Regions from separate parts of the Homo sapiens genome. Here region 2 is linked to region 1. Evidence: fine-mapped expression QTL. A gene starts in region 1. The other region holds a variant in brackets. All regions are shown on one strand. Distances are from middle to middle.

What was found. PIP is the estimated chance that this variant, and not a neighbour inherited with it, causes the effect. A credible set is the group of variants that fine-mapping cannot tell apart.
Region 2: its variant is the best candidate, but not a certain one, in a credible set for the expression of S100A9 in whole blood (TOPMed, PIP 0.66).

The regions. Positions count from the first base shown.
Region 1 is chr1:153,355,323-153,359,712 of GRCh38, reverse strand. S100A9 (S100 calcium binding protein A9) reads right to left here and starts at 1,859. Exons shown (of 3, transcript NM_002965.4): 1 at 1,832-1,859; 2 at 1,280-1,444. The coding sequence starts at 1,429.
Region 2 is chr1:153,391,557-153,395,946 of GRCh38, reverse strand. It overlaps a transcript of S100A8 not described here. Among named protein-coding and RNA genes, the nearest start is that of S100A8, 2.7 kb to the right of the region's middle. The variant G/A (reference allele first, on the strand shown) is at 1,816.

The DNA of each region.
Region 1 (4,390 bases):
CTGTCTCAAAAAAAAAAAAAAAAAAAAAAAAAGGAGAGACATCAGGGGAGGTGGAAGACCCAGACCCAGGCGGGGTCCAAGAGAGCACTGGTTGGTTCCAGCTCTGCCACCCTCTGGCTGAGTCACCTCGCTAAGTCCCCTCCCAGAACCTGTGGGGTACCCAGCCAATGCGAGCACTCTCCTGTGCAGCCCATCCATGAGGCTCTGCTTCCTTTCCCACAGCATCGCTTTGCTTCTGGTGGGGGATGTCAGGTGGGGGGTGAAGCGGGCATAGGGGGTCACATGGAGGATAGTTTTGCCATGCGGCCTCTCTGCTGGGCCCTTTCTTGCCTACCCCACCCAGCATCCTGCCTGCCTGAGGCCTCCACCTATGGAGAGCTGTCAGGGCCCCTAACTCTGAAGGCTGCAATTCTCCACCTTACCAAGGCGGAGGGAGGGGCACTGGGAGGGCTGGGGACCTACCCCAGGATGTCTGGCTCCGGGACTGGAACTGAGACTGAGACCCATGTGTTCCACCCTTCTTAATGCAGGCCTCTGTTTCCCGACTTTCCCCAAATTTGAAAAGAAAACAAAAAGGCTGTTGGAAGTGCTCAGCCTTTTTCTTAGAACTGCCTAATCATTTTTGGAGCGGGGGAAAAACCTCCCAGTTCCCTGAGTGCTGTGCAGGTGCTCTCCATGTGCTCTTTATGCATTCATTTTCCACCGCAGACCCTTAGGATTAGAAAAGCCCCCAAGTCTTCCACCCCAAGTTCCCGCCTGAGGCTTAGGGTCTCCTCAGCTTTGTGCCAAGTGTCATCCTCAGGGGCTTCCCTCCCCAACATTCGGGGCTCAGCTCAAATGTTACCTCCTCAAAGAGGCCCTTCTCATGTACCCTAACTGGTCACCTCCACCCCACCCAGCCCCATTGCCCACAGCGCACTCTATCTCATTTTCTTCCAGGCACTTATTGGCATTTGGCTTTATCTGTGCTCTTTATTGGCCAACAACTTTACTGTGTGTCTCCCTCCACTGGAATAGTGGGCTCCCCATTTACCACTACATCCCTCTGCCCAGAACAGGGCCCGACAAATAGCAGGTGTTCAATTGAGCAATTTCTTGACCCTGTCGTCCTGTGTAACTGTGAGCACCTGCCCTGTATAACAGGACACTCGCTGCGTCTTGGGGCTGGGCTCCAGGAGCTCAAATCTTCCCCTTGATTGCTGTAGCCCATACTCCCATCCTCCCTTGTCAACCCAAACTGCGGTGAGGCTGGGTCAGACCTGCCAGAGTCCAGCCCTACCTTGAGAAAATTTTGCAGATCTTTTCGCACCAGCTCTTTGAATTCCCCCTGGTTCAGGGTGTCTGGGTGCCCCAGCTTCACAGAGTATTGGTGGAAGGTGTTGATGATGGTCTCTATGTTGCGTTCCAGCTGCGACATTTTGCAAGTCATCGTCTTGCACTCTGTCTGTGTAATGGAAAACCAAGAGTTGGGACACTTAGAAGAAAATGCTGTCAAGCTTCTTTGACACTTCCTACTAAGCACTCACAGAAATAGTGGGGGAAGTGCAAAATAAAAAGAAAGCACAGGCTGCAACTTAACTGGGAGATGGCCTGTCACACACATGTACAAAATGATTTTTTAGAATATCTACAGAGTGCCAAAAAGCAAAGCATTTGAGGGCAGGAGGCCCCAGGGGAACATGACCTAAGAAAATGTGAAAGAAGCTTTAAAGTAGGCAGGGCCAACCAAGGAGGGCTTCTAGGAGGAGGATTTGGAAGGAAGTTGGGTCAGGGAAGGAAAGAAGGAATCGGCAGGCAGGCTTCTGCCTGGGGAAGCTGGCAGCTCACTTACCAAAGCCGAGGAGCCACACAGAGTGTTTGCCAGAGCTGTGCAGGCTCGGCATTTATAGGCAGCTCCTGACTGGGGCACTTGGCCCTTTGGCCCTGTCTCCGGAAGATTGCTTCACAGGTGAGCAGTGTGGTAATGCTGCCAGGAAGGGGGCTGGGGCGGGGCAGGAAATGTTCACAGAGCGCCTTCTGCTTTTTTGTGAAATTCCCAGCCCTGGCCTGAAACTGGTTTGGGAGGAAGCTGGTTGTTTAGTTCATTTCCCTTCTATCCTAAGGCCCTACTCTCCCCGAGCGAGCCTGCTGCTCCTCTGGCACCACTCAGCCCCCCATCCCCTTTGAGGTTGAAGCAGGCTGAGGACCTATGGGGGCCTGACCCTCTCGGCTGCCCCCCATGGGCAGTCTGCCCCTTCCTTTTAGTCCAACAAGGATGGTCTGAGCTCTCACCCATGCTTGCCTGGCTCTGTGATACTTAGGATGGCGAGGGGTTGGTGTTCTTAGATTCATAGGGTGAGATTTGGGGTTAGAAGGGTTCTCAGAGGTGGGCAACCCTCTTGCATTGTAGATGAAGAAACTGACACCCGGAGATGGACCTGAGCAAGGTCACATAGCTGGTTGCTGACTTGGCAGGAAGGGGACCCAGCTATTCTGGTTCCTGGTTAAGGGCAATTCTGATGATACCTTCCTCTTGCAGTCTGAGTGAGAGAGCCTCAGGGCGAATATGTTTCTAGCATCTCTCAGCATCATTTTTCTAAATCCTGCTCCCAGCAAGGGTTCCAGGAACTTATAACTTGGGAGACAACTGTTTTTACTTAGCCTCCTGGTGGGCAAGATGTGTCCTTCTCCTGCTACGAACCTCCAGTTGCTCCCCATTGCCTATGGAGAAAGCTTGGCTTAGCCCTGCGCACAAAGCCCTCTTGGAATGGCCCTGCCTGTCCGGCCAGCTTCCCTTTCACTACCTCCCTGCCCACTGTGGGAACACAGGGCCCACCTCCCACCTTGCCACCCCAGGAGTGCCCTTCCCCTACTCCACAGTGATATCCTGCCCGCCCCCACGGCTCAGTTCTAATGCACTCTCTTCCAAGGAGACTGCTCTGTGCTTCCCATTTGGAAACAGTTTCTGTCTTCCTGACTATGATTCTCATACCACTTCTGGCTCTCAACACTTGCTTTCCTGGAGTAAAATTATATACATATTTTGCCTCTGTCCAACAATTGGCTGTAGATCCTCAAAGGTAGGTTCTCATTCATGTTCTCCTTCTCCTATGCACACAGCCCGGGGCTTGGCAAGAGAGACACCCTCGGATTTGCTGATTGATCCTTGCTGAAGTCCTTGCTGGCATCCTTTCCCGTCACCCCTGGAAGCCAGTATGGATGATCCACCCTGGGACTCCCTCTTGCTTGCTGCCCCCTCTCTCTATCAGGAAAGATGGTTCTCTTCTTCTACCTGCACTGGTTATTTTGTTCTGTCTCCATGAAGCCTTCCTTTATTGCCCCAGCCCCTCCTGACTGCTTTGTCCTCTGAAAGCCTGAGGCAATCTCTGTGTGTGCTAAGCATTGGCCCTAAGCATGGCCTGCCTCACACTGCTGAGATGCACCTGGAGTAGTGGTTAAGACTTCAGACTGTCTGTGTGACCTTAGGCAGTTTACTTAACTTCTCTGTGCCTTACTTTTCTTATCAATAAAATAGGATAATATCAGGACTTACCTTGAGGATTGCGACAATACATGGAAAGTTGGGAAGAGCTCAGTAAATAAAAGGTATTATTACTAATAATCTTTTCATTCATTTATGCAACAAATATTTGTTGAGCACCTACTGAGTGCCAGATATGAATGCTAGATGCTGGGAGAACTTGATGAGTGAGTCGCAATACAAAGGGGAGACATAATCTTATATCCTGTCTTCCAAATTACGTTTTAAACTCTTGGTAGCTAAGGACAGGGCTTGGCACAGTGCTAAGCACACAGCAAGCATCTAATAAATAAATGAGTGCTTGAATACATGAGTCGCCTACGAATGAATGAACGGTGCAGACACAGCTCAGGAATACATGAGGTAGATTTCCTATCCAAGTCCACCTTCCATTGTTTAAGCTAATAGAGGAAACCCAGCCAGCAGCCAGCAGCCAGCAGCCAGCAGCCAACCCTGTGTGCCAGTGCAGCCTGTTCTGCAGTCCCTGCACAGCCCCAGGCGCCCTTCCTGTGTGCTCCCATGGCGCCCTCTGCTGCCTCTGACAAAGCACTTCTCACTCAGGACCAAGGATCTCCAACTCACCCTTGCGGGAACCAGACCCAAGGTGAAGCTGGTGGGGCATGAGAACATCAACGGCAGCAGTAGGGCAACTTGTGGCCACTGATATGGGGCCTCAGGGTTGGGGACACTGGACAGTGGTGGCAACTGTGGGGAATGAGAACGTTCCTACCTTGAAGGGACAGCCAGTGTCAGGCCAGGGCTGCCACGTGGGAAAGTAGACCAGATGTTCTTGGACCTCCTGAGGGCCCAGGACATCTGAAGCTTTATATGAAAATTCCTGTTTAATACAATTTGTCCATTAATTTAAAA
Region 2 (4,390 bases), 36 kb before region 1:
CCCTGCTCTGAAAGAGAGCCCCAAGAATCAGTGAACAAGGGTGGGGCTGAGCCTGGGAAGAGACCAGGATCGGGAGGCAGGTGCATTTCTAGCAGAGGGAACAACAGTAGAAAATCATAAAGTATGTCTAGGAGCAACAGAAATTTTGCTTGGAAATTAGTGTTCATGGAGAAAACAGTAGGAAGTCAGCTTGAATGGGTGGGTTAGGACCAGAGTCTGGAAGTCCCTGAAAACTGAGCATTGGAATTTGGACTTTATCCTTTTGGTAAGGGATCCTTAGTTGTTAAGTGTGGGGAAGGGGCGAGGGCCCTGGGACCAGCTCTGTGCTTTAGGAAACTAGTGGTAGGGGTTTGGGGTGGAGGAAGACAGATCAGACCTGCACAGCCTGGCTAGAGGCTGTGACGAGGAGGTAAACAGCTTCATGGGGACGGAAGGGAGGGAGGCGGCATCAGAAAAGGCAGAACATCAAGGTCCAGACCTGGGCGCAGACTGAGGGAGAGGAGGATCCAGAATGAGGTGGAGGTTTCAGGTGCTGGCGATTGGCATGGGACCTCGGTGCCTGGGTGGGAGCCAGTCTGCAGGGAATATTGTGTGCTGGGTTTGCACATGCTGAGTCAGACACTGACAGGAGCTGAGCCAACAATCCAGCCTGGCAGAACCACAGACACATGTTAAGGGAAGAGCAATGAGTAGAACCTGGGTGACAGTCAACCCAGGAAGGCTTCCTGAGGGAGAGAAGGGTTGGGTCTGTTTTTTTCTACAACATGATGATGGATGTGAGGGTTACTCCTGACCCAGGGCTATTCATGAACCACTGATCTGAGTCCTCCGGTATCCCTGACCCCACCCACCTGAGACCTGTCCCTGCCCTTGCTCTGTTTCTTTTTCCTTTTCCTCTCCCCTGGGACTCTAGGGATCTAATGCAGAATCCCTTAGGGAGGGTCTCCTCTGCCTTCAGGAAATGCCAGAGCCCACTTTAGAGGGTTGTCTTTTCTGAGGGTTGGTCTGGGAACCGGTGTCCTGAGCTTACTGAGATAGAAATCATGGATTTTGAAAGAGTGTTGGGGGGTGATATACCACCTGCGCACAGGACTGCAGGGTCACTTAAGAAACTTGGTCTGGTTCCCTCCCCACCTGGTCCTTTGCGCCAAACATGGTGGATTGTCCCTGGAGCTGAGCTGGAGACCTTGTTTCTCATCAGTCAGGCTCTGGGGCAGAATTTGCCCCTGCTGCTCCGGGCCTGGCCTGCTGTCCCTCCCACACTTGCCATCAGCTTAGTTTGCCTTTCAGGACCTAGCTGGGCCCTCCATTCCTTGGGAGATGTCTGCACCCCATTCCCCTTTGCATTCTTTCCTGTGGAAGGGCATCTTCTGCCACACTGTGCTTGTTTTGTACTCTCCGCCGAGACAGGACCTCAGTGTCCCCATAAACGCTCAGCAGGTGTTTGGGGAAGGAATGCAGAATTGGGGCCTGTGGGGCTGGAATTGATGACCTAGATCTGTGCTCCTTCCTGCAGGCCCCTGGCTGTGTCTAGAGGCATGAAGACCATCGCCTGAGTTACTTTGGCCACTCTTCTTGCAGGCCCAGGGGAGAAATACCTGTCTCACCTGAGAAGTGCTGGGCTCCACAGGCATTGAGTACGAAGCAGGGGCACCCAGCCTGAGCCCTCCCTGCCCTCTCCTGCCCCCTTCTGGGGGTTTCTTCACCAGCTCTGCCTGCTCTGTCCTCATTTCCTTGGCCTCAGGGATGGACCTGTCAGGTCTGTTGGGACACACCCAGGGACTGAGCCCTTTCCTGTAAACATGACCAGGTTCC[G/A]CTCCCTCTAGGTTGCCCCATGTCCGCTAGGCTGCTTACAGCCTCTGCCTTTCCCCAGATGTGCTTACCCAAGTCCTGATACCTTTTGCTGCAAGGTCAGTTCAGCCTGGCTCCTGCTGTCCCCAAAGCACCCAAGGCTGTCCAGGGGCGCAGTTTCTGGGGAGGGGGCGACATTTCACGATCTTGCTGGTCAGCCTGTACATGATGTGGGAAGGAGGTCACCACTCAGGACTCCCTCACTGGACCAGGGGAAGGACCTGAAGTAATGCCCTGTGCCTCAGTTTCCCCATCTGTCAAATAGGGATAATTATACTTGTAATGTCCACATCACTAGGTTGCTGGGAATATCAAATGAGTCAGTGGATGCAAAATACTTTGAAAATATGATATGGTGCTTTGAGGCAGGTGCTGTTATGCTGGTCACATAGGATAGTACGTGGTGAATAATAGGTATTAACCAAGGGTGGATCCTTGGTTGAAAACTTGTCATGTCAGAAATGGCGTTGTTTTCCTAGATGGAGCTTGATTCATCTTTTGTCAAGGAAGTCAGACTGCATTTGTTTGATGAATTTATACCCTGCCTTCTTCCAGAAATGATTTAAGATGGCTGATTGTGATAAAGAGAATTTCTGCCTTGGATAAGGGAAGGGTCAAACTTAATTTTGTATTCATTTATCCCTCAATAAGTATTAATTGAACATGTAGTAGCTGCCAGGCCCTAGGGTTGTGAAAAGAAATGTGATTTCTTTTCTAAATGGTCTCCTGGTCCCAAAGAAAAGACAGACAATAAACAAGTGAATCATAACATAGCAGGGCAAATGCTGTGATGGGTAAGGATTTGGGTAGCATGGAGGAGAGAAGAACTAATTCTGCCTTGATGGGGTGAGGGCAGGTGGATCAGGGATGGACTTGGAGCAGATGATGCCTGAGCTGGATCAGGAATGGTGAGGAGGACATTACAGGGACAAAAGGCATTACAGGCAGGAATAGGAAGTGGATGCTGTCACATCACATCATGAGTCACTCAATCATTTGATACGCTGAATTACTATGTCTCTCTGTGGGGCTTAGTTTCCTCATCTGTACAATGGGCATTATAATAGTACATACGTCATTGGATTAGTGTGAGAATTAAATGATCAATGCAAATAAAGCAGCACTTAGAATAGTTCCCGGACATGGGAAAAGCTCAGTGAGTGTGAACTAGTATTTTGTCATGATTTGCTCTGATCAGTGATTGTGGCTGCTGTTATTGTGTGTGCTGGGCACTGTGCTGGGTCCCCAATGGCTCACATCCAGAGAGAGCTGGATTTATTTTGGAGGGTGAAAGACTCCCTGCTATGTTTATGCAATGGCTCATGCCCTTGTGCAATGCAGAGGGACCCCAAGCAGCCTCCATCTCCCAGGGCACGGTGGATCCCCAGCTTCACAGAACAGGAGAGCTGTGGAGGAGTGTGGGCAGCAGGGTAGGAATGGATTTAGCCCTCGGCAACAACACATGTCCCCACAAAACATTTTCTTCATCCATTCATGTGTTGAGGGACACTTGGGTTGCTTCCACCTTTTGGCTCTTGTAAATAATGCTGCTATGAACATGAATGTACAAACATCTGTTTGAATCCCTGCATTCAATTCTTTTGCATATATACCCAGGAGCAGAATGATGGATCATATGGTAATTCTGTGTTTATTTATTTGAGGAACAAACTTGCCGTTTTCCATAACAGCTGCACTATTTTACATTCCCACTAACAGTGCATTAGGCTTCCAATTCTCTATGCCCTCACCAACACTTGTTTTCTGGGTTTTAAAAGAAGTAGTAGTCATCCTTGTAGGTGTCAGGTGGTATCTCATTGTCGTTTTGCTTCATGTTTTCCTAAAGATTAGTAATTTTCATATGCTTATTGACCATTTGTATATCTTCTTCGGAGAAGTGTCTATTTGAGTCTTTTCCCCAATTTTTGATTGGTTTGTTTGTTTTTTGTTGTTGAGTTGTAGGGATTCTTTTATATTCTGGATATTAATCCCTTATCAGATATTTGTTTTACAAATATTTTCTTTGTAACAACAGAAACACACCACAGTCTTCAAGGTTGGAAGCCAGTTAATCTGAGTAGCATTTTGTTAGTGGTGGGGAGAGGATTTGTTCCTCCTGAAATCCTGGGGAATTGGCCACCTCCTCTTCTCCTCTTAGGCATGAAGCGCGTCTGGCTTCTCCAAAGAACTCTTCCCCTCCACTACCTCAGAGTTAGCTTCCTCTCTTCAGCCAGTGATCCTGGGGTCCCAGACACAATAATTAACCAAGAGAGGGTGAAAGGCTCCCTGCTGTGTTTATGCAATGGCTCAGGCCCTTGTGAAGTGCCGAGGGACCCCAAGCAGCCTCCATCTCCCAGGGCATGGTCCATCCCCAGCTTCACAGAACAGGAAAGCTGTGGAGGAGTGTGGGCAGCAGGGTAGGAATGGATATAGCCCTTGGCAACAACACATTTCCCCACAAAGCACCCACCCAAAAGAACAACAACGATAGTTTTAGTTTTTAGTAATGAGAACAATAGTTCTCATGACTAAAAGCCAT